4 linked regions of the Homo sapiens genome follow. The protein of the gene in region 4 binds, or shares a complex with, the protein of the main gene of each other region. Each region holds a gene or a part of one and is shown on either strand. Other genes may lie near its edges. The genes, in order: NDUFAF1, TMEM126B, ACAD9 and TMEM186.

Region 1 (6,335 bases), on a different chromosome or scaffold from region 4:
ACTGAGTTATTGCCTTGGGCGGATCACCTGAGGTCAGGGGTTCAGGACCAGCCTGGCCAACATGGTGAAACCCTGTTTTTACTAAAAACACAAAAAAAGTAGCCAGACATGGTGGTGTGGGCCTGTAATACCAGCTACTGGGGAGGCTGAGGCAAGAGAATCGCTTGAACCTGGGAGGCGGAGGTTGCAGTGAGCCGAGATCGCACCACTGCACTCCAGCCTGGACAACAGAGGGAATTTCATCTCAAAAAAGCAAAACAAAATGAAATTAGAAGAAATCTAAATGCAACAGAGTGGTAGAAGGCCATTAACAGTCATCTCAGAGACTCCTGCCTTAGAAACTACTCATATAGGAAATGTTCCTAACAGCAACTGTTCTGAGCAAAAACACTAAGTTATTTACATAGTACATTTACATCAGTACTTGCATTCTATGAGATAAAGTACACCAGAGAACCTGGTTTCATGCTGTGTTCCCCTTATCCAGTCCCTCTTAGCAATAGCCTTTCTTTGTGGGTTTTTTTTTTTTTTTTGAGACAGAGTCTCGCTCTGTGGCCCAAGCTGGAGTGTAGTGGCGTGATCTCAACTCACTGCAACCTCTGCCTCCGAGTTCAAGCAATTCTCCTGCCTCAGTCTCCCAAATAGCTGGGATTATAGGCATGTGCCACCACACCTGGCTAACTTTGGTATTTTTAGTAGAGACGAGGTTTCACCATGCTGGTCAGGCTGGTCTCGAACTCCAGACCTTAAGTGATCCGCCCGTCTCAGCCTCCCAAAGTGCTGGGATTACAGGCGTGAGCCACAGTGCCTGGCCAGCAACAGCATTATAACTTGTCTTAGAGAATACATACTAGCCAGCCAGGCGCGGTGGCTCACATCTGTAATCCCAGCACTTTGGGAGGCCAAGGCGGGCGGATCACCTGAGGTCAGGAGTTCGAGACCAGCCTGACCAACATGGAGAAACCCTGTCTCTACTAAAAATACAAAATTAGCTGGGCATGATGGTGCATGCCTATAATCCCAGCTACTCGGGAAGCTGAGGCAGGAGAATAGCTTGAACCCAGAAGGCGAAGGTTACGGTGAGCCGAGATCACGCTACTGCACGCCAGCATGCCAGCCTGGGCGACAGAGCAGAACTCCATCTCAAAAAAAAAAAAAAAAAAGAGAGAGAATACATACTAGCCATTGGTTGGATGCCATTAAAGAAATATTTTATTTTGTCTATATCATTGTAGATGCTAGTACCCTTAGATTAGTAAAACAAAACTACCATATGATCTTTATTTAAAAAGCCTTGGGTTAAGCTCTGGAGAATTTTCATAGGCAAATTCTTCTGTATGAGCTGGATCAGTAAACACGCCAATAAAATCTATCTCCAGGAAGAATGGACCATCCACTTTATCAGCCAAGGTGAATCCTATAGAAGAGATCTAAATTTAAAATACAGAAATTGATTAAAATCTCATACAGTGACGTACTGAGATTATTCCAGGAGTTTAAAATCCCATCAGGTGATGATTATAACTGGGTTTTAATGCTATCAGCCCTTAGCAAATACTACTAATTCTCCCATAGCATACTGTAAGAGGAAATACAAGACTGCTTTTCTTTCCTCATTCAACTTCCTCCCCTCTCCTCATTAGGTAGTGCCACTTAAGACTAGGAAGGACGGCCGGGCGTCGTGGCTCAGGCCTGTAATCCCAACACTGGGAGGCCAAGGTGGGCAGATCACAAGGTCCAGTTAAAAACCAGCCTGCCCAATATGGTAAAACCTCGTCTCTACTAAGAATACAAAGATTAGCCAAGTGTGGTGGCAGGCACCTGTAATTCCAGCTACTCAGGAGACTGAGGCAGGAGAAATGCTTGAACCCGGGAGGTAGAGGTTGCAGTGAGCCGAGATCATGCCACTGCACTCCAGCCTGAGTGACAAAGCAAGACTCCATGTCAAAAAACAAAAAGACTAGTAAGGACGACATGAATGCCTAATGGAGTTCCTTGAAGCGTTCATAAACTCTTATTTTAAAGCTAAATTAGGAGAGAAGGGAGGGGGGAAAATAGCTAAAGTAAAATGTAGGCATGCTAAAAAATGATCCTTCTAAAATTCCTTCAGGATGGGGGTATGGTTCATAGGAGAGGTCTAAGTCAGCCTCTGGCTGGGTATAAGAGCAGTGGCCCTGAGAAGAAATATTCATCTGCCAGCCTTCTCAAATGAACTCAGTCTCCCCAGAGTTCCGATTCATTAAAAATGATACAGTTCTGAGTGAAAAATACAGGAATATGTTACCTTATCAAGCGGAAGCTCATGCTGAACATCCCGGATTCTTCCTCGATTAGAGAAGAAAAATTTGGAAAAAGGAATCTGAAAGAAGAAACCATTTACTTCATAACTGAAATGTAAGCAATTGAGGCATCTGCATGTAATTGTAACGATAAAATGAGTTTACATTTATTCTAAAATTATGTCATATATGTATTATGACAAATGGCTAGCCATTTGGATCAAAGATATAACTCAGGCCAAACGATAAAGGGTTAACTATGAAAAAAATATTTGTAACATTTATGGAAAAAAGACTAGTATCCTAAACACAGCTTTTTTTTTTTTTTCTTTCTGTGGAGAATGGGGTCTCACTTTGTTGCCTGAACCCGGGAGGTAGAGGTTGCAGTAAGCCAAGATCACACCACTGCACTTCAGCCTGGGCGATAGAGCTAGATTCTATCTCAGAAAAAAAAGAAAAAAGAATTTTAACGTTTCCCTTCCTTCCTACATTAGAAACTGAACTAAAAGAAATGTCCTATTCCTTCTACTCTTGAACTTTCAAGTGTGCCTTTTTATTCATCAACTTTATTTTCATATTTCTTCTCTATGTAATTTACTTATTATTAAGCACGATCTTTTAAAACTATATCTGGCTTTAATTGTTTGTGTTTTGTTTTGAGATAGGGTCTCACTCTGTTACCCAGGCTGGAGTGCAGTGGTGCCATCTTGGCTCACTGCAACTTCCACCTCCCAGGTTCAAGCGATTCTCCCACCTCAGCTTCCTGAGTAGCTGGGACTATAGGCGCACACCACCACACCCGGCTAATTTTTTTTTTTTTTTTTTTTTTGGTAGAGACGGTGTTTCACCATGTTAGCCAGGCTGGTCTTAAACTCCTGAGCTCAAGTAATCTGCCAACCTTGGCCTACAGGTATGAACCACCACACCCTGCCTAAATAATTATACAGAAGCTCTCCAGGATATATTCCTAAATTTTAAAAACACAAAAAACAGGTACAGAGTATGCTAATTTTATTTATATTTTGAGTTTAACAAAGGAAGAAAATGGCTGGGCCTGGTTGTGCATGCCTGTAATCCCAGCACTTTGGGAGGCCAACACAATAGGATCAACTGAGCCCAGGAGTTCAAGACCAGCCTGGGAAACACGGTGAAACCAAGACTCTAGTAAAAAAACAAAAAACTTATCCAGCCATGGTGGTGCATCCTTGTAGTCCTGGCTATTCAGGAGGCTAAGGTGGGAGGATCACCTGAGGCTGGGAGGTTGGGGCTACAGCGAGCCCATGCTGCACTCCAGCATGGACAACAGAAGAGAGACCCTGTCTCAAATAAGTAAATAAATTTTAATGAACATAAATAAAAATGAATTATACATATTAATAGTTATTCCAGTAATTTTATCTCTAGGAATATAGCCTATGAAAATAGTTAAGGATGTTTACCTCAGAGTTTGTTCCGACAGTAGAAAACTCTGAAAACAATCTAAATCTACATGTACATAATGAAGAACAAGTTAAGAAAAAAAAATTTTTTTTTTTGAGACAGGGTCTTACTCTGTCACCCAGGCTGAAGTGCATGCAGTAGGGTGATCTCAGCTCACTGCAGCCTTGACCTCCCAGGCTCAAGCAATCCTCCCACCTCAGCCTCCTGAGTAGGTGGGACTAAAGGCACATGCCACCACACTGGGCTAATTTTTGTATTTTTGTAGAGACAGGGTTTTGCCATGTTGCTCAGGCTTGTCTTAGACTCCTAGCTTCAAATGATTCACTGCCTTAGCCTCCCAAAGTGCTAGGATTACAGATGTGAGCCACTGGACCCAGCCAAAATTGTTGTCTACTTATATAATATCATGCAGACATTAAAAATGATGTAGAAATATATTTGAAGAGAAAGTTGTAAACAATAGTTCAGTGAAAATACTGTATATATGTTATAAAACACCACTGGAAGGGAAAAGTGTGACTAGAAAAGTGTAGAAGATACATATTAAAAATAGTATTTTTGTGCCAGGCGCGGTGGCTCACGCCTGTAATCCCAGCACTTTGGGAGGCCAAGGCAGGCGGATCACGAGGTCAGGAGATCAAGACCATTCTGGCTAACACGGCGAAACCCCGTCTCTACTAAAAATACAAAAAATTAGCCAGGTGTAGTGGCAGGTGCCTGTAGTCCCAGCTACTCAGGAGGCTGAGGCAGGAGAATGGCGTGAACCCGGGAGGCGGAGCTTGCAGTGAGCAGAGATCGTGCCACTGCACTCCAGCATGGGCAACAGAGCCAGACTCTGTCTCAAAAAAAAAAAAAATAGTATTTTATCTGCTGGGTATGGTGGCTCATGCCTGTAATCCCAGCACTTTGGGAGGCCGAGGTGGGCGGATCATGAGGCCAGGAGTTCAAGACCATCCTGGCTAACACGGTGAAACCCTGTCTCTACTAAAAATACAAAAAATTAGCTGGGCGTGGTGGTGGGCACCTGCAGTCCCAGCTACTCGGGAGGCTGAGGCAGAATGGTGTGAACCTGGAAGGCAGAGCTTGCAGTGAGCCGAGATCCCGCCACTGCAGTCCAGCCTGGGCGACAGTGCGAGACTCTGTCTTACAAAAATAAAAATAAAATAAAATAAAAATAGTATTTTATCACTGGATAGTGGTAGTACAAGATTTTTTTCTGTACTTCCCAAATTGTTTTTATAATGAAGTAGTTATTTTGTATAATAATTCATTATATATATATTACTTAAATACAAGTATATATAATTTGTGTTATATATCTGTATTACTACATATATATGTATGTATTGAGTGCTTATTTTGTGCTAGGCACTAGGACAAAATTCTAGGTACAGGGGAAACTGGTAGGAACAATATAAGCAAGATCTCTGCTCTCACAGAATTTACAGAATTTAGGGCCAGGTGTGGTGGCTCAAACGCCTATAATCCCAATACCTTGGGAGGCGAGTCGGGTGGATCACTTGATGTCAGGAGTTCGAAACCAGCCTGGCCAACTTGGTGAATGAAACCCCATCTCTCCTAAAAATACAAAAATTAGCCGGGCGTTGTGGTACACGCCTGTAGTCCCAGCAGGAGGATCTCTTGAACCTGGAAGGCAAAGGTTGCCGTAAGCTGGAATCACACCACTGCACTCCAGCCTGGGCAGTAAGAGTGAGACTCCATCTTAAAAAAAAAAAAAAAAAGAATTTATATAATTTATGTTCCAGGGAAGGCAGTAGAGTGACAATAAACAGATGAATGAATGAACAAAGTAATTTTAGTTAGTGATAAGTTCTATGAAGAAAGTTATAGGATGGTGGTGTTGAAATAACTGGATTAGAGGGTCCAACTTTAGTTACAGGAATCAGGAAAGGCCTCTCTGAGGCAACTTTTGAGCCGAGAGGTGAATGACAGGAAAGAGAAAGCAGGTGAAGACATGGGGGCAGAGCATTACAGCAGAGCAACACTAAGTGCAAAGCTCTGAGATGGAAATGAGGTTGTTAAATCTGACAGAAAAGGGGCTGGTGTGGAGGAAGGAGGTAGGAGGAGAGATGGAAGATGAAGACAGGAGGAGAGATGGAAGATGAAGACAGGGGTCCGATATTGTAGGCCCATAGGCCATGTGCAGGAGTTTGGACTTTATTCTTTTTTTTTTTTTTTTTTTTTCTTGAGATGGAGTCTTACTCTGTCACCCAGGGTGGAGTACAGTGGCGCGATCTTGGCTCACTGCAACTTCCACTTCTCAGGTTCAAGCGATTCTCCTGCCTCAGCCTCCTGAGGAGCTGGGACTACAGGCGTGTGCCACCACCTGCTGCTAATTTTTTGTATTTTTAGTAGACACAAGATTTCACCATGTAGACCAGGCTGGTCTCAAACTCCTGACCTCAAGTGATCTGCCCATCTCAGCCTCCCAAAGTGCTGGGATTAAAAGCATGAGCCACCTAGCCCAGCCTGGACTTTATTCGAATTGTAATGGGAAACCACTGAAGGGTCCTGATATGGTTTGGCTGTCTCCCCACCCAAAATCTCATCTTGAATTGTAGTAATCCCCATGTGTCAAGGGAGGGACCAGGTGAA
Region 2 (7,873 bases), on a different chromosome or scaffold from region 4:
GCTGCATTGTACTAGAAAATTCTGTTAAAGCATATTTTTATCTTTAAAACAGCAACTTTCTGCTGTAAAACATGGCAAATGACGTACCTATCATTAACTTTTATTTCTTATGTTAACACAGTAGGAAATCATATCAGATCAATTCAAGAAGACTTGTTAAAACAGACCCTTATAACACACTATGGTCTTGCATCATATCAGAGAATACTAATACAACTTATCCTGAATTGGTCCTAAATTTTCACAAATTAAAATATGTCCAAGATTGTCCCAAGGGCTCACCTGGGAGCAAATAAAGTTACTACTATAGATAAGAAAATCTTGAATGAAAAGCAACTGCTGAGGAAAAAAAACCTTCTATGAGGAAACAGAAGAGTCTTCTGTTGATAAAACTGAGATCTGTAAAAATGCGAAGAGACTAGAGTGAGAGAAGTAGAAAGTAATGTCATAAAGCAAACGAGCAGTTAATATGGGGTTTGAGGCACAGTAGTTTCAGCTTATCCAAGGGCAGTCCAGAATGGCACCTAGAAATGGGCTTAGTGAGATGTCACACCCATTCCCAATTCCCACCATGGTTGCATGGTATCAGTAAAAGAATCTCCTCTCTCTTTGACAAAAATATACTAACTAAATACCAAATGAAAATCCATCTTATGAAAATTTCATACTTTAATGAGAATATGTTCAACAATGAATAAACACTTGGCTCAGTGAGGATAGTTATTGTTTAGAATCACATTAAGTCTAGCTTTTTCGTCATGTCTACCACATGAAACAATGAAGAGAGAAAAAGACTCAAGGTGACAGAGGACAGTGATCCCTGCAGAATAAATCTAGGTTAAACTTAAAAATACTGTTCTTATATTATATAAACAGTAGAGATAGTAAGCATAGCCAATGAAAAATACAATATACACATAACTTGTTTGGCTAGTTGTCTATAATATTCAAGAATATGTATCATAATACTAGCAGTTTTAAGAGATTAAAAGCAAGATACATTGTTTCTCTAGATCAGTTTATAAGGAAAATATACAACATATACTCTGGTATCATAGAAATATAAACTGGTTTTTCTAATAAGAACTTGTTGATTCCTTTAAAAATTCAATCCATTAGTCAATTCATTATTGAAGAAGGAAAGAAGAAAGGGAAGGAGGGAGGCAAAGGAAGAGAGGAAGAAGGAAAGAAAGGAAATTCTTCTAAAGTATTATAATTTCACCAATGTATCAGCAATTTCTGTAACAGTTCTTTAAAGGGAAGAACTTTTAAGAAACTCGGTTTATGGGGTTTAGAAACATTAAGTTCTAAACTTTCTAACTAAACCTGCTTAGTTAAGTTATACCTAGAATATCAATTGACCTTCCTCCTCTTCCTTCCCACATACCTTTTTATCTCTTTCTCTGTCTCTCCTCCTTCCCATTCTCTCTTCCTTTCACTCTTTTCCTCTCTGTCTCTCTCTCTCTCACACACACACGTAATGTGTTTAATTCCATTATTAGTTCAAAATAAGGTAATCCAAAAGAAACTCTCTAGAGAAATGGTAGAAAGAATAAAAACACACATCAACTTAAATATGTCAAAGAGCCATATCATTTATTGGCTACATTCCCAAAACCATTCTTGTTCTAGATAAACCAATTGTGTCTGGTCTGGACAAGTGTGGCTCCAAAATCTCAGGCAGTTTACTTCTGTCAGTGGTATTATTAGAAACAGCAGGGGGAGGAAACAATCCCAATCTTAAATCCCAGTGTGCAAATATCACAGTTCTAGGTGTTCCAAAAGTTTTATATATCATTGTCCATCTCTACAAATATCAGCTTGGATAAGGCATCTCAGTGATTATAAGTTTCCTCAACATCCCTAACAAATCCACAGGTAGAAGAATTAAACACCATGCAGAGATAAGTTCCACTTTAACCTGCAATTCACCCAGAGCTTTAGTTTCAGATTGTAGCAACTCACATAACTGGACAACATTTGGATCTATATTAGTCCAGTATAGCAGAGTTCAAGGCTGTTCATATAAGTTTTGATTCAAAACTCTTGAGAAACTCTTTACAGTTGATCTCACCTTCCATATAATGTCAAAACAAAACAAAACAAAAACAGTCCCAAACTAGGATCCTTTGGAACAAAGTTAACCTGGGGTGCATCTAAGCTAAACTGAATCCCCAAGTTCAGAATATAATCAACTATGCTTCAGGAATTCACTAGATCTTGATCAATTCCAATAATAAAAGTTGTTGAGGAGGGAGGAAAAAAACAGGTGTTTGCCCCATTTGGGGAACTTGACAATCATGTTATTGGATAATGCATATATCTGGAAAAGCACAATAGTCACGAAAGTTGTGCTTTATCACAAAAGTGAAGATTTACACTAGAATAAATCCAAATAATAAGTCTATTTTTTAACCAAAAGATAAATTATAAAGCTGTAATTTTGTTCAGTGCAAATGAAATTACTTTGCTACCTTTCACAATTCTGTAATTAGTTTGATAAATATTAAACCCATGAGGAAGAGCTCCACTGCACAAGTTTCTTTTTTAAAGACTGCTTAAAAGTAACCTTCAACAAGCTAAGAAAACAAGCTAAAGGAGACTCCAAATCTGCGGTACTGAATCTATTCTTATTACCAACGGTGATATAAACAACCTGATTTATGAAATCATAAATATCTATCAATAAATACTATAGTCTTGCTTCCTTTTACTTTAGTAAAATAATATTACTGAATTATGTACCACTGAAACTATATTACAATAAATATTTCCCCCAAACTGAAGCAAAACTTTACTCTCAAATGGAATATAATTTAAATTACAAGTACCAGAACCAACAAAAGGGAGAAATATTATATAGCAACCTTATGGCCCACCTGTCTTCTTGACTGGCATTCTTGGGTCTTTCCACTGCCACAGGAGTCAATATCTCTTTTCAGGTCTCAGTTTGATCCAGCTGGATTGAGGCCAAGAGCCAGGTAACTGTTGCAAACCACTTCAGTGTTCAGTTTTGAAATCCAGGCTGAGTCTTCTATGTCAGACAAAGAAAATAATGATGTATTTTTTCCACAACTAAACTTTTTACACCGCCCACAGAGTTTACAGCAACGTAATTTTTTAGTTTTTCAAGTTTTTCAATTTTCAGAAAATATTTAGACTGTTTTTACAAACTGGGAAAATTATTGTAAACATGAAGAACGTTACTGAAATTCCTCTTCAGGCAGCAACATTTTTGGAAGTTCAATGACTAACTCAATTAAGGCACAAACCAAATTTAGACAGGTCTCATTACTTTATACATGGTCAAATTCAAAGATGATGATAAAGATACTCAAATCTGTAGAGAAAAATGTAACCCCACCTCCCCAAAAATACTTTTAAAAATCTCTTTGACTCCAGTCTCTAAAAAGATAGGTGAGTTTGAACAGTTTTCTGTGGCAGAACACACATTGAAAGGCCCCCTTATATTTACTGATCAGAAGTTCCGGATCTCACCCCCTCAGTAACTCAGAATCCAGCTTGCTGTCCCTTTCATTTTTTTCTTCTGTGCTCTCCAAGCCCCCAGGCTTGATCCTTAATGCCCCTCTGATTCTGATCCTCCCATGTATTAACCGAGAGGATTGAAAAAAAAGGAAAGCAATCCCTTGGCATGGAGACATTAAAGTGACAGTGCTACTCAATGGGCACTTGATGCAGGATGAGTTGGCGAAGCAGATTTCTTCACACTGGAGTCATTCACATCATGCCATCTCTTCGCATTCAAGCAGCTCCCTATCCGGCGAGGAAAAACACTGAGACTTCGAGAGAAGCCAAACCTTCCCCCAAAGGTGTTTTCAGAGACGCCGTAGTAGTATTAGACATGTAAGCATAAGCTATGTAAACGGTCCGCGATTTCCTAAATGAGAAAGTGCAGCTGCTTGGCTTTCACATCCACCTTTTCTCTCAATCTCTCTTCAAACTACCCACCTTCCTTTTGCAGAAAAGACAAGACATTTCTTTGCCACCGCTGGCCACCCCTGCCCAAGCCCCGTTCTTTTAGGGAAGAGCACTGAAATGTCCTGCACCCTCCACGCGATGAAGTGTTTCCTCAGGCAGGAGCAACAGCAGCACTAGAAATTATATAACTCTCGAATTTGGCTTCTGTAAGACATGGAGACTGGAGGGTCGGGGGTTGCCGGTCTGGGAGATACTGCTGGGCATTTAACGTGCACAAAACAGCGCCAGGCCTTGCAGTGCCCCCCACCCCGAGACACGGCTGACAAGTGGGTCTTCTCGCGGGGGTAGTGGGCAAATTTCTCTCCGGTCTCTTTCCAAGCGGGGCTAAAGGATGCAAATTGAGGGGACTACAGACTGGGGAGAGGAGTCAGACGGCTGAGAGGAGAGGAGGCTAGTCGGGGCTGCTCTGACGGCGCTGGGCGGCTGGTCCGGGGTTTGGAGGAGGAGGTGCCCGAGAAACAGAGCTTTAACACCACACAGGCCAGGGCAAAGGGGCGAGTTCCCTCAAGGACTGAAAGGGGCAGGCAGCTAGTTCCCAGCTGCCCTGAGGAGAGGCAGGAGCGCAGTAACATTACAACATTCGGGCCGCCCCATCTTTCCCGCAGGACGCGAAGAGATCAGGGAGCTAAGCTGATAAATAGTCAGGGAAGGAAATACTCGGCTGGCGAGGGGGGCAGGCCCACAGGCGCCTGGACCTCCTCTAAGCGAATAAGTGGCCGTAATTTCTAGACGCCGCGCCCAATCACAGTCAGGATGGAGGGCGCGGCTTTTGACTGAGTGGGGGCGGGCCCGGGCTGCAATCGAGAGGCGTTGAGCCGTAAATCAGCACCACTTCCCGCCCAGGGCGTTCTGGGTCCCCGCCCACCGGCAAGTCACATGAGCCACCAAAATGGTGGTGTTCGGGTATGAGGCTGGGACTAAGCCAAGGGATTCAGGTGTGGTGCCGGTGGGAACTGAGGAAGCGCCCAAGGTAGGCGGAAATCCGAAGTGGTATGGGGGGTGATTTCTGCACCTTCAAAGTGTTGGCAGACTCTTCTAAGATGATACCTTTAAAGGAGATTTGAAAAGTTAAAACAGCTCCCAAGTCCATGCAAGGAGCAGTCGATTAAGTCTCCAGTTGCTGTGGAAAGAGGCGGAGAGAACGTAGATGACCTAAATTCTAGTCCTCATTATCTGCAGTTTGTTTTCTCTTGTCTCCAGGCCTTTGCACAGGCTTTTTCTTCAACTTGGAGTATTTCCCTGCTTCTATCCGTCCCAACTCCCCTGCCAAACTGTTCTCTTTCGGTTATTGATTTAAATGTCACTTCTTCCGGGAAGCCTTCCCACGCTTCCTCTGGCTAGATTGTTTGCTTTTTCTTAGGTTGTTGGGTTTTTCGTTTATGTCACTCTCTCATTCTGTGTTTAAATTGCCAGCTTTTTTGTTCTGAACTCCCACTGCGTTGTGGATTCCTGAGGATGGGATGACTGTATCTTGATTACCCGGAGGTCTGGCATATACCACGTGCTCCCTAAATTATGAGCGAATGTTGAATAAAATTCTAAAGGTGAAATTTATTATTAGGTGAAAAATTTATTATTAGGTAAAATAATACACATGAAAGCACTACAAAACCGTTAGATGATTTGCAAACTATAAACCTACATAAATGCACTCTTACTGGTATAAGCGTGGTGACTAGTTGAGTGGCCTTAAGGGGGAAGGGGTGTAATGAAAGCACTGGAGTCTTTGACAGTGCCTTGCAAAGCTTAAGCACTCAAATATTTCCTGTGTTCTTTCCAGTATTTCAGTATTTGCTGTCCTGTAATCATAATCCTGGGTGTCTGTTTTCCCTATAGAGACTTTAGGGTGTAGACTAGGTAGGAGATTAGTAGAAGATATTGCCTGGAAGTTTGTTTTGTTTTTTGTTTTTGGTGGAAGGTGGAGGATTTCAATGAATTGGATGAGAGCAAAACAAAAATTTATCTATGGTTTATGGTTACTCATGTTATTGACGTCTGCCAAGACAGCAGATGTCTTAGTACAATAGATGGGTTAGGTATAGAATCTCCCTTAGATGTTACTATCCCTTATACTTTCCATTTGGGTGTCAGGGAGAGGGAAAAGATGTAAGTCTAGTCACTGAAAAATTGTAATTTGTAAAATATTTTACCTTTTTTTCCCCCTGCCCTCTCCAGAAATGTTACAGAAAAAGATTGAGTACATTTCTGCCATGATGCAGAGAAAGAAACTGGTCCATTATTACTCATTGTGTAACACCATAAGAAGGTTCAAAGGAGCTCATACCTTCTGTATGTTGATGCCAGGAACTGTGTATAATGAACTGGCCTTCTATAGTTAGGATTGGTACATACCGCTCATTCAGCAAATGAGTATTACAGTGATATTCAACATGTGTCCATTGACTACAGCATCAGAAGCACTAAGTGCTATTAAAATGCAGATTCTAGGCCTCATCCTACTCCTGCTGAATCCAGGTATCTCAGGAGGGAATTCATGAGACTGCATTTCAAATAAATACCCCATGTGATTCTTGTGCATGCTGAAGGTTGAGAACCACTGATTTATTAAGTATCTTGTGTGTTCATTATGCTTTATCCCCTCTAATCCTCTTGTCTAGGACTCCTTAAATTTGAGATTTAGTATTTCCCTTTAATATAAACATTAAAATTGAGATTAGTGTAAATTTGTAAAGAGACTATTTAGCTAATCTGGAGGAAAAAGAGTAAAAAGCACTGAATTTAGCAGCAATAGACCTTCCACTTGGCTGCTGTAGTAGGTAAACATTTGCAACCACGTGTTTGGATTTAACAAATGTTATTAAGACTTTTCACAGAGACTCTAGAGTCTTGCCCAGAGCAAAACATTCAGAAACGATCCTCTCTGAGAGTGCAGGGTTTGTTTTTTTGTTGTTGTTGTTTTGTTTTGTTTTTTAACCTGTCTAGTTTCTGTTAAGATGCTACTGGCCAGGTCTTCATGGTCCCTTGACATTGGCAGCTGTCTGTTCATCACACTTGGGACACAAGAACCTTCCGACCAAGGAGCCCAGTGCCATGGGTCTCTGGGGCCGGGCACGGTGGCTCACGCCTTTAATCCCAGCACTTTGGGAGGCTGAGGCAGGTGGATCACCTGAGGTCAGGAGTTCGAGACCAGCCTGGCTATCATAGTGCAATCCTGCCTCTACTAAAAATACAAAAATTAGCCGGGTGTGGTGGCAGGTATGGGTCTCTGCTATACCACATGACCATTTCTAGCAAAGGCTCTGCTTCCACCACAGGTGGTAATAGGGAACTGGATATATAATTTATGTACTCCAAAGTAGTAGCCACAATCCACTGCCTGTTCCCTTCCTGGAGCAGTGTCCCTCTTTCTGATTTTTCTCTCTCACTATTCTCCAAGGCAATCCCTGCTCTCTCCTACCTCTCTAGGAAATGAAACACGATTTCCAAAATGAACTTAATCTTTCATGAGAAACTGAGGATAGAGATGTCAATAAGCAGCCACTGTTTCCACCTCCCCACCTGAAGAGCTAGGAGGACAACTACAAAGAGCCTGACTGCCTTCTCGGAATGAGGAGAGAGGAAAACAGCAACAGTATCAGTATGTTAGCCTTCTACACTAAATCTCAAGCAAGCCAACCTTTCAGACCTTCAGTTTGCTCATATGTATAGAAATAATCATTATACTACCAATTTCTCAAGTTAGTGTGTAAATCAGAAAGCCAATGTCTGTATTGTAGGATGTTTAGCAAGAAAATAAAAAATAATAACAAAAAGCCAATGTCTAACAGATAATAAGAGCTCAGTAAATGTTGATTGAATTACTAACAAAGTATGTGAAAGCAGACGACACAGTACCTGGCACACTACTAAACTG
Region 3 (8,158 bases), on a different chromosome or scaffold from region 4:
CTGTGCCTGTGAAGTTCTCATCTGACTGCATGGATTTTCCCAGTGGAATGGGAAGCAAAGCTGACAGCTGAGAGAAAGGGCAGGGCAGGACAGGTGGTGCCAGAGGTTTAAAGATGGAAACAGATCTGAAAGATTTGTGTTCTTTCTTCGCCATGCTGCTGGGAGGCAGGAGATCCCAGGATAGAGCACCACACTGCCCCAGGTCCTGGGTAAAAGGGTTTCCCATATGTTAAAGACATAGCTCTGCATTTCCTAGCAGGGCAAGCTGCTTTTAGTCTGAGTCTTAGCTTCTGCATCTGTAAAGTTGCTTGCTATAAAGGGATCAGCCTGACAACCTCAGAGGAATGTTCCAAAGAGAAGCCAGGGAATAACTTCTGTGATACAGGATCAGCCAACATTCAGCCAAGCTGAAAACAAGGCACCCCTAGGAAGGGGGAAACGCTACTGTGTTTACTCCTATTTTGTAGATGAGCACACTGAGGAACAGGGAGGAAAAGTGACTTGCTCAAGGTCACAAGATCTTCTTGAGCCTGCACTGTCCATGTCCTCTGCTGCACAGTACCTTCCAATCTCCATGCACTACATATCTCACTGGGCTCTACAACATCTTCAAGTGAGACAAATCACTAGCTCCATTTTAAAGCTGAATGAATTGAACCCAAGGCTAAGCCTTTCACCTCTAAGAGGATGGTGTGTTTAATAACCTAGCTGTTACTATTGGCTGGGTTGTGAGACCTGTGGAAGTCACCCTGCAGCTAGATTTCTGCGGAACCTCAAAGGCGGGGGTAGGGCTAGGGCTCAGCTGGCAAGGAAGCCCACAGGCCACTAGAGGGTGACATGGGAGCGGCATGGCCTGAGATGTTTAAGAATCAGAGAGGAAGCCTTGCACATTTTGGTGTCAAAACACCGGAGTCGAGGGTCACTCAGTAATCACTCACCTGGGTTTTCCCAAATTGTCCTGATACGAACGCTTGTCAAAACCGTTTCTGCCCAGGCACTCCCTTTCCTAGCCCCTGCCCCCAAATTAAGTTCTTCCCAAGGGAATGTAAGTGGAAGGAATCCGTGATTTCTGTCCGGTTTTTAAAAGATGGGATCGTTCTTCGCAGTCTCCTCTTCCCCCAGCTCTAGGCAGAGGCCTCTAGGCCCTTGGGGATGGTGGTGTAAGGTGGAAGGGGCAGGTCTTTGCAGCAGCATCTGCAGGAAAGCCTTTCTCCTACCTTTTGATGGTTTGGTGGTCTTTGGCTTGTAAAATAATCAGTCCAATCTCAGCCTCAGCTTTAATAGTAAGGGATCAAGCAGTAGTTTCTACTCAATGTTCCTCATACCCAGAGTCAAGGATTCTGCTATGCTAACACTAACATTATGGCTAAAGAATGTTCACTTTCTGTTAAGTTATGTTGTGAATCAGTTGTATTGATGTGAGGAGACATTCAGAACTACCATGAGGATATTTTAAACAGTTGTTAAATCAAGTTTAGCCTAAAGCTGCTTCCTTATATATTTTAAGTTCGGCTTATAGGTTTTCTGCACATTGTGAACTATAAGTGGAGGCATAAACAGACCGTAGCCTATACTTGTGCCAATCACAGAGTTTTTGCCAATCAAATGTAGCCAACTGTTCAAACCATGTTCAAATAAGGCAAGGCAGAGCTGTAACCAATCCAGCTGTTTCTGTACCTCACTTTCCTTTGCTGTCCATAAATCTTCCATTACATGGCTGTGCTGGAGTGTCTGAGCTTGCTCTGGCTCAGAAAGCTGCCTGATTTGAATCGATTGCTCAATTAAACTTTTTTTCTTTTGAGACAGAGTCTTGCTCTGTCGTCCAGGATGGAGTGCAGTGGTGCAATCTTGGCTCACTGCAACCTCCACCTCCCGGGTTCAAGTGATTCTCATGCCTCAGCCTACCGAGTGGCTGGGATTAGAGGCACTCACCACCATGCCCAGTAATTTTTGTATTTTTGGTAGAGACAGGGTTTCACAATGTTGGCCAGGCTGGTCTCGAACTCCTGACCTCAAGTGATCTGCCCACTTCATCCTCCCAAAGTGCTGGGATTACAGGTATGAGGCACTGCACCCGACCCGGCCAATTAAGCTCCTTTAAATTTAATTCAGCTGAAGTTTTTCTTTTAGTACACTGAACAGGGGAAACTGTTTAAAACAACATCATATTTCTCAGAGGCTAATACTTAAATATAAGATGGAAGGATCAAAGTGTAACTATTGTCATTTTTATCACTTGCTGTGCTAAGTGCTTTCATGTGGATTTACTTAAACCTTTTAAAAGTCCTGTGAGATAAAGGGTATCATACTCATATTTACAGATGAGGAAACTGAATTTAGAAACTAGTATAGTAGTGAAACAGCAAAACTCTTCTGCTATACTCTATTGGAGCAATTAGAAACTATGCCTTAACATTTTTCTAATTTTTGTTTTGTAAAATTCTGTGCCACTGGATTTCTCATTTGGTTGATTTAGGGAGACCTGTGTACACTAAACATTTGACACATTAACAGAGTACTTGACTGATTTGACTACATTTGTTTGGCAAAAAAGTACAGCAGCTCAAAATTGAAACAGTTTTTGCAACATATGTATATTTTTCTTTGTTTTACCTATGGGGATAATTTACAAAGGCAGTTGTTTCCAAATACCTTCTTGTGAAGCTGAATGCTAAGCAAGTAAATATCAACCACTGATGAAGAAACCAGGTGAGAGACCTTAGACAAGGTAAAATAATCTGAAAAGATGCCTGCAAATATTTTGCAGTTTAGACTCTACGCCTTGCAGAGTTTTGAGCTCTTTTTTCTTGATGTTGTGTTAGCAATGTAATCTTTTTTGGTGCTGAGCTTAGCTTGCTGAGATGAAAGGGATTTCTTTTTCTTCTCAAGGAGTTGACACAATGGAAGCTGGAGGCATTTCCCAACACTGTGGTCAATGCTACAGTCGGGGAACAAGCAAGTCTCCCCCAAAACAGGGATCGGAGTTTTTAAGGATAATTTGGCGAGTAGGAGCTCGGGAAGTGGGGAGTGCTGACTGGTTGGGTTGGAGATGGAATGATAGGGGGTTGAAGTGAGTTTTTCTTGCTGTCTTCTGTTCCTAGGTGGGATTGCAAAACTTGTTGAGCCAGATTACCGGTCTGGGTGAAAAAGCAGAGTGGCATTCTTCCTGGAGGAGCTGGCTGAAGATCTGTAGAGGGCCCATGTGCCACGTTCAGAGCACTGTTGGGCTGTGAGGTGCCAGGCATGCCCTGCCTCCTACGTGGGCCCCTATGGCCTGGCCTTGAAACCGCCACTGCAAAATTATAACCGAGACAATGAAAGAGATCTGACCTAACCAACTCCATCTTGCTTCTAACCTCCAAGCTGTCCTTGTTCATTCCTGAGCGTAGGCTGAACTAACCTTGGGAAGGAATGAGTTTATAGTTTAACTTCAAAACAAAAATAGCCCTTTCCCGGGAAAACAACAACAACAACAACAAAAAACAACCTCTTCTTGCCTGGGACCAGTTGGCCTTTGGAGGACTAACAAATTAGCTATAAGATTAGAAATTACAGTTTAGAGGCCATACAGCCTTTGGTTGCAAGAGTCTGAACGTCCCCCAAATTGTTCCTGGGAATAACATCACTGTTGTAAAACCTACCAACACCCAGACTGGTAATCTGGCTCAACTAGTTCTGCAATCCCATTCAGGAACAGAAGACAGCAAGAAAAACTCACTTCGGCCCCCTATCAGTCCATCTCCAACCCGACCAATCATGCACCTCCCACTTCCCGAGCTTCTACTCGCCAAATTATCCTTAAAAATTCCGATCCGTTTTTGGGGAGACCGATTTGGCTAATAAAACTCCCTTTCCAACACACCCGGCTCTGCGTGAATTACTCTCTCTCTATTGCAATTTCCGTCTTGATAAATCAGCTGTCTAGTCAGCGGGCTGTAACCTTGGGCGGTTACAGCCTGGCCTGTCCCATCCCATCCAATAGTTCCCATCTCTTCTCAGCTCTCTCTGTAGTTTCTCTTCCTCCGCCTGCCTTTTAAGTTAGTGTTTCCCAGGACAGAGGTGACTCAGTTGTATCCAGACCGCTCTGTGACTGAACACCCACTTTCTTTTCCTTTTCCAAAAAATATATGTAACATACATGTCAACTAGGAACAAAACAGTATCTCAGGAATCCACCATCCAGTTAAAAATGGACCCTTACCCTTACCGTGCCCCTGCAGAGACCCCAATACAGCGCATTTCCCTCATTCTTTTGCTTTTCTCAAGTTTTACCACGGCCTCGTGGCCACAAGTGACAAAAGAGACAAGTGGAGGCAGCTGAGCCGGCCTTTAGGTTTCTGTACACAGGGAGATTTCCCATGGCTGGCATTTATGGAAACAACCGCTGGTATGTGAAAAACAGGTCCGTCACCGCCGTCACGACGGCCAGAGATTATACCCGCCGAGATGCCCGCGGCCCAGGGCCTACAATTTCCTCCGGCCAGCTCCTTTGGCCGCGCAAGCGCAGTGGGGCCGGCGGGAAGCGTAGGCGTGTGACGTCATCAGGCGGCGCGGGCCAGCCAGGTGCACGTGACTAAGGCCTTGGGCGCGGCAGGTGGTAGCCTTCCCGCCCTTCTGGCCTCTCCATCCCCTGCTGCGGGGGACCGCGCAAGCGCAGTGAGTACTGCACGTTGTCGCGGGCCAGTAACGTCATCAGACGTGTGTGTGTCCCTGCGGCGCTAAGAAGGGGAGACTGAGGCTGAGGCTGGGGAACATCGGGCAGCATGAGCGGCTGCGGGCTCTTCCTGCGCACCACGGCTGCGGCTCGTGCCTGCCGGGGTCTGGTGGTCTCTACCGCGAACCGGCGGCTACTGCGCACCAGCCCGCCTGTACGAGCTTTCGCCAAAGAGCTTTTCCTAGGCAAAATCAAGAAGGTAACGCGAGCCCTGGGCGAACCCTTGCTGTCTGGCTCCCGCTTTTCACCCTCAGCTGCAAGACTGGTGTTGAACTTTGTGAGATTCCCCAAACCTGCCAGAGAGATACACCCTGCGGCCGAGGCGTGTTAACACTCCGGATTCCTGAGTTCCAGGAAAACCTTCCCAGAGAAAGGGTGAGACATTTCCAAGACGGGGGACCCTTGGAAATGTGGTGGTGACGTGTTCCAGCTAAATTTTGTCAGGGGAATTCGGAAAACTCTAGGCTAGGTAATTAACAAAGCAGCCTTCATCTCAGCTGGTCTGGTCTGGAAATGTGCGGGGCTTCCTCTCTGATTCCTAAACAGCTTACACCATGTCCCTCCTCAGTCACCTTCCAGCGCCCTGGGGCTTCCTTCCCCAGGTGAGCCCAGCGCCTCTCCCTGCCATTGAGGTTCCTCAGAAATCTGGCTCCAAGATGCTTCCCAAGGGTGGCACAACCCAGCCAATAGTAACAGTTTGGTTATAAAACACTCATTGTCTTCTTAGAGTTGGAAGACTTGGGTTTGGTCTTGGCTCGTTGACTTTGAAACTCAGTTGTTTTTTTTGAGACAGAGTCGCGCTCTTGTCGCCCAGGCTGGAGTGCTCACTGCAACCTCCCTCCTGGGTTCAAGCGATTCTCCTGCCTCAGCCTCCGGAGTAGCTGGGATTACAGGCGCCTGCCCGGCTTTTTTTTTTTTTGTATTTTTAGCAGAGACGGGGTTTCACCATGTTGGCCAAGCTGGTCTAGAACTGACCTCGGGTGATCCGCCCACCTCGGCCTCCCACAGTGCTGGGATTACAGGGGTGAGCCACCGCGCCCGGCCAAGACTCAGTTCTTTCAGCCTTAAAATGGAGATAGTGTTGTGTCTCCTTCACAGATGTGTTGTAGAGCCCCAGTGAGATAAACGGTGCATGGAGAGTCTTCTTAAACTGTAGAGTACTGTGCAGCAGAAGAGAGAGCTGGCTTCAACACTTAGTCTTGTGACCTTGGAGCTGACGGCTGCACCTCCCTGTGCCTCAGTGCATTCATCTACAAAATAGGAATAAACACATTTCTTGCTCTTTCCTTTGTATTTCATTTTATCTTCTAAGGAAACCAACAGTATACTTGCTATTTCGTCGAGGTGCCCTACTTTGAACTTGGCTGAATGTTGGCTGATCCTGTATCACAGAAGTTATTCCCTGGCTTCTCTTTGGAACGTTCCTCTGAGGTTGTCAGGCTGATACCTTTATAGCAAGCAACTTTACAGATGAAGAAGCTAAGACTCAGACTAAAAGCAGTTTGCCCAGCTAGAAAGTGCGGAGCTATGTCTTGAACATATTGGAAAACCTTTTACCCAGGACCTGGGGCAGTGTGGTGCTCTATCCTGGGACTTCCTGCTATCCAGCAGCATGGTGAAGAAAGAACACAGATCTTTCAGATCTGTTTCCATCTTTAAACCTCTGGCACTACCTGCCCTGCCCTGCCTTTACTCTCAGCTGTCAGCTTTGCTTCCCATTCCACTGGGAAAATCCATGCAGTCGGATGAGAAGTTCACAGGCACAGTTACCCCCTCCCGCTGCATATGTGCCGGTATTATCTACATTCTGTTACTGTGAACTGTCTGCTCCTGGCAAAACCAACCTCTCATTAGACTCCAGGTCTTCTCACCTACTCAAGGGTAATTCTTTCCTTTCTCTGCATCATTAACTGTTCTCTCTACTGGATCTTGAGCCCTTACCATTCAGGCATTTGTCCCTAATGGCCATAGAAGTCAGTAATGACCTCTCTGTTATCAAATTGTGTGATCTGTTCTCAGACCTCATCCTACTTGACCCATCATTGGCATCTGACACCGTTCATCCTTCCACCCTGTTGACGCACTTTCGTCTCTGGTTTCTGAATCACTGTTCTCGCCATTCTCTGAATGTTCTAAATACTTCACTGGCTGATACTTCTCTGTGTCCATTGCTGGTTCTTATTCAGCTCCTTGACCGCTAAACAGTGACCAGTGTTTCCAACTAGCCAAGTTGGAATTTACTAAGGCTGGGTCTCGTTTCATCTACAGCCATCTGCTGGGTGACCTTATTTAGTGTCCTGGCTTTAAATATCATCAATATCCTGATGCCTCAAGTTTCTTTCTTCAGTTCAGATTTCTCCCTGAACTCCAGATTCCTTTTGCTTTTTCAGAGTTGGGGGCTTTCTCTGTCACCTGTGCTGGAGTGCAGTGGTGCCATCATAGCTCACTGCAACCTTGAACTCCTAAGGCTCAATAGATCCTCCCACTTCAGCATCCCCAGTAGCTGGGACTACAGGCACGCCCTGCCACACCCAGCCAAGATTCTTTTTTTAATCTACCTTTGTACTCAAAAGCTGTACTAAGAGGTCTAACAGGCATTTGAGATTAATAGATCCCAAACTGAGTTCCTGGTTCCCACCCAATCCTGCTCCTTCCACCAGCCTTCTTTATCATAGATAATGGTGGCTCTGTTGTTCCACCTGTTCAAACAGAACACCTGGAGTCACCTTGTACTCTTATTCTCCTAGTCCACTTCTAATTCCACAGAAGATCTGGTTTTCTCTACTTTTAGGTTCTTAGAATCTGACCACTTTTAGGCCCTTCTGCTGCTACTTTGGATCAGGCCAGTGTCATCTCTCACAGCCTTACTGGGATTAGAGCAGAAACATGGGACATGATGCTTAGAATCTCAGATTGTGTAGGCCAGTGGTTGTCACCCTGCCCTAAGCTGGACCCAAGCTATTCATGGAGTGTCCTGGAACTGCTGCAGGGATGGGTGGGAAGTTGAGTGGGTGGGATTTGGGTGCCTGTTTTCCCTATCAGCAGTCTCAGTCAGAGCCGCCTGCTTCTGTCTGTTTTACATATTTGGTTTCTGCACTAGATTTCTTTGAATAACAGGTTCCACTTTTTTAGATAATTTACAAACTGTTTATTGCAATTGAACTCTCCTCCCCTAAGGCATTGACCTGATTTGATAACATCAGGATCTTTCTCCCACGCCCCTGCAATCTCTCCTGTGTGGCAGGTTTTCTGTGGTTGTACCTGAAGGCCAATTAGTTGCCAGGCAGTCTTATCTGGCCTGCCCACTGGTACCAGAATGATCTCTAACACAGCCCATTGCACAAGACCCAAGTGTCAGTGAGCCTCTGTGTTCAGTGAAGGAGACTGAGCTTTGATATAAAAGGCTGCAGAGTGATGGAGCCATCAGCTTGTTTTTTTTTTTTT
Region 4 (8,170 bases):
ATATACTTAATGTCCCTGAATTGCACACTTAAAAATGATTAAAAGGATAAATTTGTTAGGTGTATCTTGGTATGGTTAAGAAAAATGGAAGGCTACACAATAAAAAAAAATATTTTTTTTTTGAGACGGAGTCTCACTCTGTCGCCCAGGCTGGAGTGCAGTGGCGTGATCTCGGCTCACTGCAAACTCCGCCTCCCAGGTTCACACCATTGTCCTGCCTCAGCCTCCCGAGTAGCTGGGACTACAGGCACCTGCCACCACGCCCAGCTAATTTTTTTGTATTTTTTAGTGGAGACACGGTTTCACCCTGTTAGCGAGGATGGCCTCGATCTCCTGACCTCGTGATCCGCCACCTTGACCTCCCAACGTGCTGGGATTACAGGTGTGAGCCACCGCCCCCAGCGATAAAACATTCTTATTGACTTTCGAGTGGCAAAATAATAAAGATCATGCCTTCCTTCCTCTTTACTGTGTTACAAATTGTATAATGAACATATATTATTAATTATGTGGGGCAATGTATATAACTGGCTTAAGTTTATAAAATAACGTACCAGCATCCGGTGCATTTGGCTTTATTACACTGCAGGGCCATCCAAAGCAAGAGCCTCTAGACCTCTGGGTGGTGAACAAATCTCAACTGGGGTTTCGTGCCTACCTGGACGACATCTGCTCGTCAATGTGTAGTTAACATCCTGACAGACCCTTCTGCCGCTGGATATGTGAGGGGCACAGCACAGGGCTCTGGAAGTCCCTGCTGACTGCTCGAAGCCTTTCTCCCTGCTAAAACCTCTGACCAAATGCTTAATAATATCTGCTGTAGGCTGTTGAGTCTGCCACACGTTTGACATTTATTGTTTATTCCCACACCCATCCCATGAAACAAGCAGGACTTTCCATTTTACAGATGTGAAAACCAAGATTCAAAGAGACTCAATAACCTGCTCCAGGACAAATGACAGAACTGAGACTTCTGACTCCAAATCTTACGCTCCCCCGCCACACCTCTTTGCCTTTCTCTTTCACACCAATGGACTCTATGGGTGACCTTGGCATAGGTTCTTCTAAGAACTGGCTCTTAACAAAAACTTCTGGCCATTATCTGACTGAATGTCACAAACAAGTGCTGTAAGAACTTGCTTAGAGCCTTTTTCCTAAACCTGTACACCAGCTCTTGCCTTGTGAATTTATTCACCACAAAACACATGTTCCCAGGGGCCCAGGCAAAGTCTCCAAGTACCCAGTCCCCTTTCTTCAGCCTTGCCCACACCCTCAGCCTTCCTGTTAATCCAGGCGACCCAGGGTTACCCAGAGGTCCAGGTCCCAGTTGTTCACTTGAGCATCTGATGTACCCCAAACACCTGTGTGAAACGCTCTCTGTCCAGGATGCGTCCATAGCGCAGGGTGACGTAGAAGGTCTGTTTCCCACTGTACCGCTGGATACGCACAAACATCTCCTGAGGCCGGTCCTTGGTTTCTGTCAGGGGAATCACATCTGCCATGGGACAGTATGTGTCCTGCCGCCAGCCCCAGAAGTTCAGATGGGCCACCCGCAGCATGGTGCCAGACTCATTCAGATACAGGATACCAACCAGTCTCCGTAAGAAATAGCTCATCCAGCACAGCATGGTCAGGGCAAAGCCCGATATCCCACTCATGAGGCACACGGTGTTGAGAGTGAGGAGGCCCTGGGAGTACAAGTAATAGCCTGGTGGCAAAGCTACCACTGTCAGGGCAGTCTGTGCCAACTTCAGTCGTGACAGGAACCCGAAGGTTCTGATGGCATCAAAACGGTAAAACATCCAGAATTTCTCAGTCTCTGCGTTTGGTAGTTTCTCCTTCGAGATGGGTGAACTGCTGCCCACCCACCTCTTAGGATCCTCCTGCCCACTGCAGCACCACAGCCCATGGAGAGGCCTTTCCCACACAGCTTTTCCCCGAAACCTACGCACAGCTCGGAGAAGGGCAGCCTGAAAGGGAGACAGTAGACCATTTCTCTCATGGAACTCAACCACATTAATCACACGGTGAACATCTGCAAAGCACCATACTCTAAGGCTTCTGCCAATCCTGCAAGGTAACCGTTATTGCCAGACGAGGGAAGGGTAAAGCCAGATGCTATCTCATGTGGGCATCACAACAGCTATCTAAGATAGTTATCACTATTTCCACTTTACCACTAGGGAAACTAAGCCCAGAGAGGGTAAGATATTTACCAAAGATCACACAGTCAGTGAGTGCAGCAGAGTCCTCCTTCCACCAGGCAATTCCAAATAAATACAGGAAAGGAGGTGCGGCCGTCATTAATTCAAAACATATCCAGGGAGGACAAACTCTGGGCTGGACAATGTATCCACAAGGGGGTGTGAACATTTCCCCAAGCAGGAAACTAAATAATCAGTGTCTTAGTGGGGAACTCGAGCAACAAATCTGTGAGATATTTATTCCAATAAACTTTCTAATTCTCTGTTTGATTCATATGCTATCTTGGGTGCTGGAGGGAACTGCTGCTTTCTCTTAGCCTAGTCTGGGGAAGGGGAAACAGCGGAGAAGGAGAAGGAGCGAGGCAGGGAGGCCCCAACACGTAGCACAAGGGTATTACTAGGTGGGTAGTGAAGCAGTAAAAGCTCTTATTCCAATTCTGGCTCCAACAGTAATTTGTGAGCAAATTACTCCACACCCCTGAGATTCGGTTTCTTCGCCTTTCAAAATGGGGACTCAGAACACAGTGAACCAGAGGATGGTTTCAGAGTCCTCAACTTAGTACCTAATGCACTGTGAGAGCTCGGCGAGTTTTAGCTACTACTACTGTGCGCATGTGACCCAAGGAGGGCAAGAGAAAGCCCGGGAAAAGCGAACTGTAACACACGCCAGAGCTTCCTCCCACGGATCCTCGGAGTCCGAAACCCGAGCGTCGGGCCTGCCCGCCCCAGCCCTGACCCCGACCCCAAAGAGCATCACCCCCTCAAGGCTCGCCACCCGCCTCCTTACCATGGCCCCACCACCTGCTGCCGGAAGTAAATCCCACCGGCCCCCGGAACCCCTAAGAGCGCATGCTCGAATGTACAAGGCGGGCGTGATCTGCGTTGCACCCTGGGAGTTGCGGTCCAGGAATCGTGGCTGCCGCTACTCCCAGGCGTTATGGGAACGGAGTCCCCTCCTCTTCCCGACGTGCCCTGCGACTCAGCGGCCGAACCCGGAAGTTCCGGGCCGAGTTCCTCGTGCCAACGTGTCTTGTAAGGTGCGGCTAGAAACTGGGGACATGGCAGCGCCTGGCCCAGCGCTCTGCCTCTTCGACGTGGATGGGACCCTCACCGCCCCGCGGCAGGTAAGTGGCGGCCGGCGGGCTGCTGGCAGCCGACGCGGAGCCCGTGCTGTTCCCAGTTGGGGCTATCGACCACCCAGGGTAGGCGCCAAGGGGTGGCTAAGGACCGCCTACGTCCTCACGGCGCTGAACCCTATTCTGGGTGCACTGGAGGAATGAGAGGGAGGCCCTAACCAGCTCTTGAAGAGCTCTGGTGCTTGGAAAGATGAGACGGGGCTGAAGAACTCTTAAGAGCAGGAAACTTGTGCTAGGTTGGAAAATGTAATCTGGACTCACCGCTAGTGCTCGGGACTGATAGACCAGGATTTCAACCCAAGATCAGGCCCCCTTATCAGCTATGTGTCGGCCCCAATCCTGTAACCAATGGGCTGTGCCGTGAGTCATGATATTAAAAACAGGTTTCCAGGTCAAACCGACCTAGTGGAGTCTCATCTTCACCTCTTGACATCTGTGTGACCTTCAGCGAGTCATTAACCTCTCTGAGCCTCAACATCTACAGCTTTAAATGGGGATGTTACCTGTTCCATATGGTGTCTGTGAGGATCAAATGAGATTGTGTAAGTTCTTGAAAGTATGTTGGACACAACACACTAGGCCTCAGTAAATAGTAGCCACCTCCACCACACCCATCTCCAGCCCCTGCAATGGACTAGGGAGATGGAGGAGCCCTAGGTTATTACAGGCTGCCCGCTGAGAGCCTCTTTGGGCCCTTGGAAACTTGCTTTCCACTTTCAGATTTTGCTGCTACAGGCACAGATAAGTTTCAGTTACGATCAGCCTTGAGGTGAGGCTCTCCTGGCCCCTTTTCAGAAATTGGCCACTGAACACTGGCCATTTCAACTTGAGACTGGACCCCAATGGTCTCACTATCCTCAGCTTCTACCCTCACCCCTCATAGTTTTCGCTTGGTGGTAACAATGGTGTGCTCCAGAAGTCCAGGTCAAATGCGTGTGACCTTAGACGTATCATTTTGCCCTTCTCAGCCACAGGTTTGATTTACCTAGTGATGACGCTCAACTCCCAAGTTCTTCAAAGGCTTTTTCTGATTCTGAAATTCAGTGATCACACACTTGGGTTTGTTAAAAGCCCATAGTGGTCTAAAACTCCGGTCCCCAATTCATTTTTTGTAAAGGGCCATATAGCAAATACTTCTCTGTCTTTGCTGACTATGTGGTCTATAGTAACCACTCAACTTTAGTGCAAAACCAGCCATAAACCCTATATAAATAAGAGTGGCTGTGTACCAATAAAATTTTATTTATTTATTACAAAAACAAACAGCTGCCCAATGTGGTCTGTGGGCCATAGTGGTCTAGGGTTTACATTGCCACCCTTTTTCATATCACTGAACCCTCTCAACCTTCCTCCATCTTTCTTCCCAGGTAGGATAGTTGTTATTACCGTTTTAAACATAAGGAAACACACTCAGTGAAGAACTAACCTCCTCAGTTTCACACAGCCAACCTGGTACAAGTCTCTGGGCCTCAGGATATTGGTTCCTGTCAAGTTTGCCATTTCCTATCTGTGCTAAGGTGGAAGCTGTTCTAGTCACTGGGTATGCCATTCAGGAAAGTGCTTCTGATTTTCTGATTTTCACAGTTCTGACTCTTTTTTTTTTTTTAAGACAGAGTCTCACTCTGTCACCAGACTGGAGTGTAGTGGCCCAATCTCAGTTCACTGCAACCTCCACCTCCCAGGTTCAAGCAATTCTCCTGCCTCAGGCAACCAAGTAGCTGGTGCTACAGGCAGGCACCACCACGCCTGGCTAATTTTTGTATTTTTAGTAGAGATGGGGTTTCACTGTGTTGGCCAGGATGGTCTCTATCTCTGGACCTCGTGATCCACCCGCCTCGGCCTCCCAAAGTGCTGGGATTACAGGCGTGAGCCACCGTGTTCTGACTTTTAAAGGCCACTCCTCCAATTCTAGATTCTGTCTAATAGGTCCAGATTCCACTGTGAGAGTAGAAAAGATTGCACTCTATTACAAACCCTTCTGTACAATTTTAATCACATTCATGTATTACTCTAAAAAAGTTTTTTAAAGAAAAATCATTGAACTCCAAGTGTTTATATACTGAGGTTGAATTAAATGGTTTTTTGTATTTTCTAAATTTCTAGTAAAAAGATATTCAGCCGGGCACGGTAGTTCATGCCTATAATCCCAGCACTTGGGGAGGCTGAGGCGGGTGGATCACTTGAGGTCAGGAGTTCGAGACCAGCCTTGCCAACATGGTGAAACCCAGTCTCTACTAAAAATACAAAAAGATTAGCCGAGCATGATGGCGGGCGCCTGTAATCCTGGCTACCTGGGAGGCTGAGACAGGAGAATCGCTTGAACCCAGGAAGTGGAGGTTGCAATGAGCCGAGACCACACCATTGCACTCCAGCCTGGGTGACAGAGCACGACTTCGTGTCAAAAAAAAAAAAAAAAAGACATTCAGTGTAAATGTACAACTGAGATTGCTCAAAGTGCTGAGTTATAAGACTTGTAAAAATACATTGTGATGTGTCTTAATGTAGGGCTATTTTTTCATCTTAGTTTATAACTTTTTTAAAATTATCACACAGTTTGGAATTTACCATAAGATTATACCACTAAGACCACTCTTTCTAGATAGGAGCTTTGCTTTTAGAAGAGACTAAAAAATCTAGTTATCTTACTCTTTTACATTTTTGTTTTGTTTTGGGTGATTGCAATAAAATCAATTCTAAGCTTCTCCTTTTTTTTTTTTTTTTGTTTTGTTTTGTTTTGTTTTGAGACGAAGTCTCGCTCTGTGACCCAGGCTGGAGTGCAGTGGCACGATCTTGGCTCACTGCAACCTCTGACTCCCGGGTTCAAGTGATTCTCCTGCCTCAGCCTCCCGAGTAGCTGGGACTACAGGCGCCCACCAGCGCGCCCGCCTAATTTTTGTATTTTTAATAGAGACAGGGTTTCGCCACGTTGGCCAGGCTGATCTCGAACTCTGACCTCAGGTGATCCACCCGCCTCGGCCTCCTAAAGTGCCGGGATTACAGGCATGAGCCTCCATGTCTGGCCCTAAGCTTCCTCTTTAATTTCATTATGTTGTTTTATTTTAAAATCAACAACTTAAATCCATAAATGGAGTATAGTGTAGCATTTAAAAGGAATGATGAGCTAGATCTGTGTTGGCATGAAAAGATCACCACAGCATAGTGCTGAAAAACCAAAGTCCCTGCACAGGACATGATTCCATTTATGTTTCAAAAATAAGACCTATTTGTATATGTGCCCATAGATGGGTATATAAATGCATAGAAAAATAGCTGGGACAGTGCACAACAGCTACTAACATATTACCTGTGTTTAAAATTTGGTAAAAATAACACTTAAGTTTATTCTGGTAAAGATGCCCCCCCAGTTACAACTAAAATATTTGAACTATGTACAGAGCTGGTAACTTAATTGGCATGTATGAAAATAAGGCTTATAGACCTGGCTTATACCTGTAATCTCAGCACTTTGGGAGGCCAAGGCTGGTGGATCTCCTGAACCCAGGAGTTCCAGACTGGCCTGGGCAACATGGCAAAACTTAGTCTCTACAAAATATAAAAAAATTAGCCAGGTGTGCTGGCACATAACTATGGTCCCAGCTACTCAGGAGGCAGAGATAGGAGGATCACCGGAGTCCAGGGAGGTCGAGGCTGCGATGAGCTATGACCATGCCACTGCACTCCAGCTTGGGTGACAAGTGAGACCCTATCTCAAAAAAAAATTTTTTCTTTAATTTTTAAATAAGAAAATAAGACTTATGTACTTGTGTTACCCTTAGAGTTTTGGTCTCCTGATTATTGTGTGGCTTATGACTGTTGTATTTTCTTTCTTGAAATTTAGAAAATTACCAAAGAAATGGATGACTTCCTACAAAAATTGAGGCAGAAGATCAAAATCGGAGTGGTAGGCGGATCGGACTTTGAGAAAGTGCAGGAGCAACTGGGAAATGATGGTAAATGATGGGTTGCTAATTACATCTGGTAAAAGATTAACTTCTTATGAGGATATTGTTGCCAAGTATCATAGGCTGCCCTAAAACCTTGTCCCCATATGGCGGGCTTTCTGCTTCCTTTTTTGGGAAACATTTTCTTGGCCTTTGCTTTTCCTCTGCTTTTAATCCAGTACATTTCTGGAGTTACTGATGGAGAACTGGGTACTCAGATGTGTGAGTAGATTCACCTAGAAAGGTCAGTGGCTGTATCTGCACATGATAATCTCTCTGCCTGGAATACTTCTTGCTTGTACCCGTTGACAGCCCTTCTAGCCCCAGTCAGACCGGTCTTCATATTGTCCCTCTGACAGCCCCCCTCACCTCCCCATCACTGAAACAGAATCTCCAGCACAGGACCCCGAAAAACCAGAGAGGCTTATTGACCCCTTCACTGGAGAGTCTGACTTGATAGGTCTGTGGAGCCTGGGAATCCTATTTCAGTGAGTACCTCTGAGAGATTCTAGTGTACAACCTTGCTAATGTAGCATTCTGTAATTATTGTAAACTATCCGATTATATGTTTTTGAAGAGCAGGAGTATGGGTTATTCATCTCCATAGCCACAGGGCCTCCTGGCCTGTAAGAAATTGTAAGTGGATGCCAGGCGCGGTGGCTCACGCTTATAATCCCAGCACTTGGGGAGGCCGAGGCGGATGGATCACCTGAGGTCAGGAGTTTGAGACCAGCCTGGCCGACATGATCAAACCCCATTTCTACTAAAACTACAAAAAATGAGCTGGGCGTGATGACGGGCACCTGTAATCCCAGCTACTCAGGAGGCCGAGGCAGGAGAATTGCTTGAACCCAGGAGGCAGAGGTTGCAATGAGCCGAGATCACACCA

Evidence for each region.
Region 1: TMEM186 (region 4) and NDUFAF1 share a complex: the UniProt entries of both Homo sapiens proteins name them as parts of the mitochondrial complex.
Region 2: TMEM186 (region 4) and TMEM126B share a complex: the UniProt entries of both Homo sapiens proteins name them as parts of the mitochondrial complex.
Region 3: TMEM186 (region 4) and ACAD9 share a complex: the UniProt entries of both Homo sapiens proteins name them as parts of the mitochondrial complex.

What each region holds. Positions count from the first base shown.
Region 1 is NC_000015.10:41,386,164-41,392,498, forward strand, and holds the end of NDUFAF1 (complex I intermediate-associated protein 30, mitochondrial precursor), read right to left. Parts: intron 2,360-6,335; coding exon 2,285-2,359; intron 1,431-2,284; coding exon 1,281-1,430; 3' UTR 1,190-1,280; downstream 1-1,189. UniProt on the Homo sapiens protein: As part of the MCIA complex, involved in the assembly of the mitochondrial complex I.
Region 2 is NC_000011.10:85,623,720-85,631,592, forward strand, and holds the start of TMEM126B (complex I assembly factor TMEM126B, mitochondrial), read left to right. Parts: upstream 1-4,873; 5' UTR 4,874-4,888; coding exon 4,889-4,969; intron 4,970-5,412; exon of another isoform or gene 5,413-5,522; coding exon of another isoform or gene 5,523-5,543; intron 5,544-7,425; exon of another isoform or gene 7,426-7,597; intron 7,598-7,873. Other genes in the region: DLG2 (disks large homolog 2), read right to left, coding at 2,880-2,898. UniProt on the Homo sapiens protein: As part of the MCIA complex, involved in the assembly of the mitochondrial complex I. Participates in constructing the membrane arm of complex I.
Region 3 is NC_000003.12:128,874,929-128,883,086, forward strand, and holds the start of ACAD9 (complex I assembly factor ACAD9, mitochondrial), read left to right. Parts: upstream 1-4,691; 5' UTR 4,692-4,763; coding exon 4,764-4,913; exon of another isoform or gene 4,914-5,089; intron 5,090-5,162; exon of another isoform or gene 5,163-5,183; intron 5,184-8,158. UniProt on the Homo sapiens protein: As part of the MCIA complex, primarily participates in the assembly of the mitochondrial complex I and therefore plays a role in oxidative phosphorylation.
Region 4 is NC_000016.10:8,794,621-8,802,790, forward strand, and holds TMEM186 (transmembrane protein 186), read right to left. Parts: upstream 3,020-8,170; 5' UTR 2,995-3,019; coding exon 2,992-2,994; intron 1,971-2,991; coding exon 1,332-1,970; 3' UTR 560-1,331; downstream 1-559. Other genes in the region: PMM2 (phosphomannomutase 2), read left to right, coding at 3,263-3,328, 7,179-7,290. UniProt on the Homo sapiens protein: As part of the MCIA complex, required for efficient assembly of the mitochondrial complex I.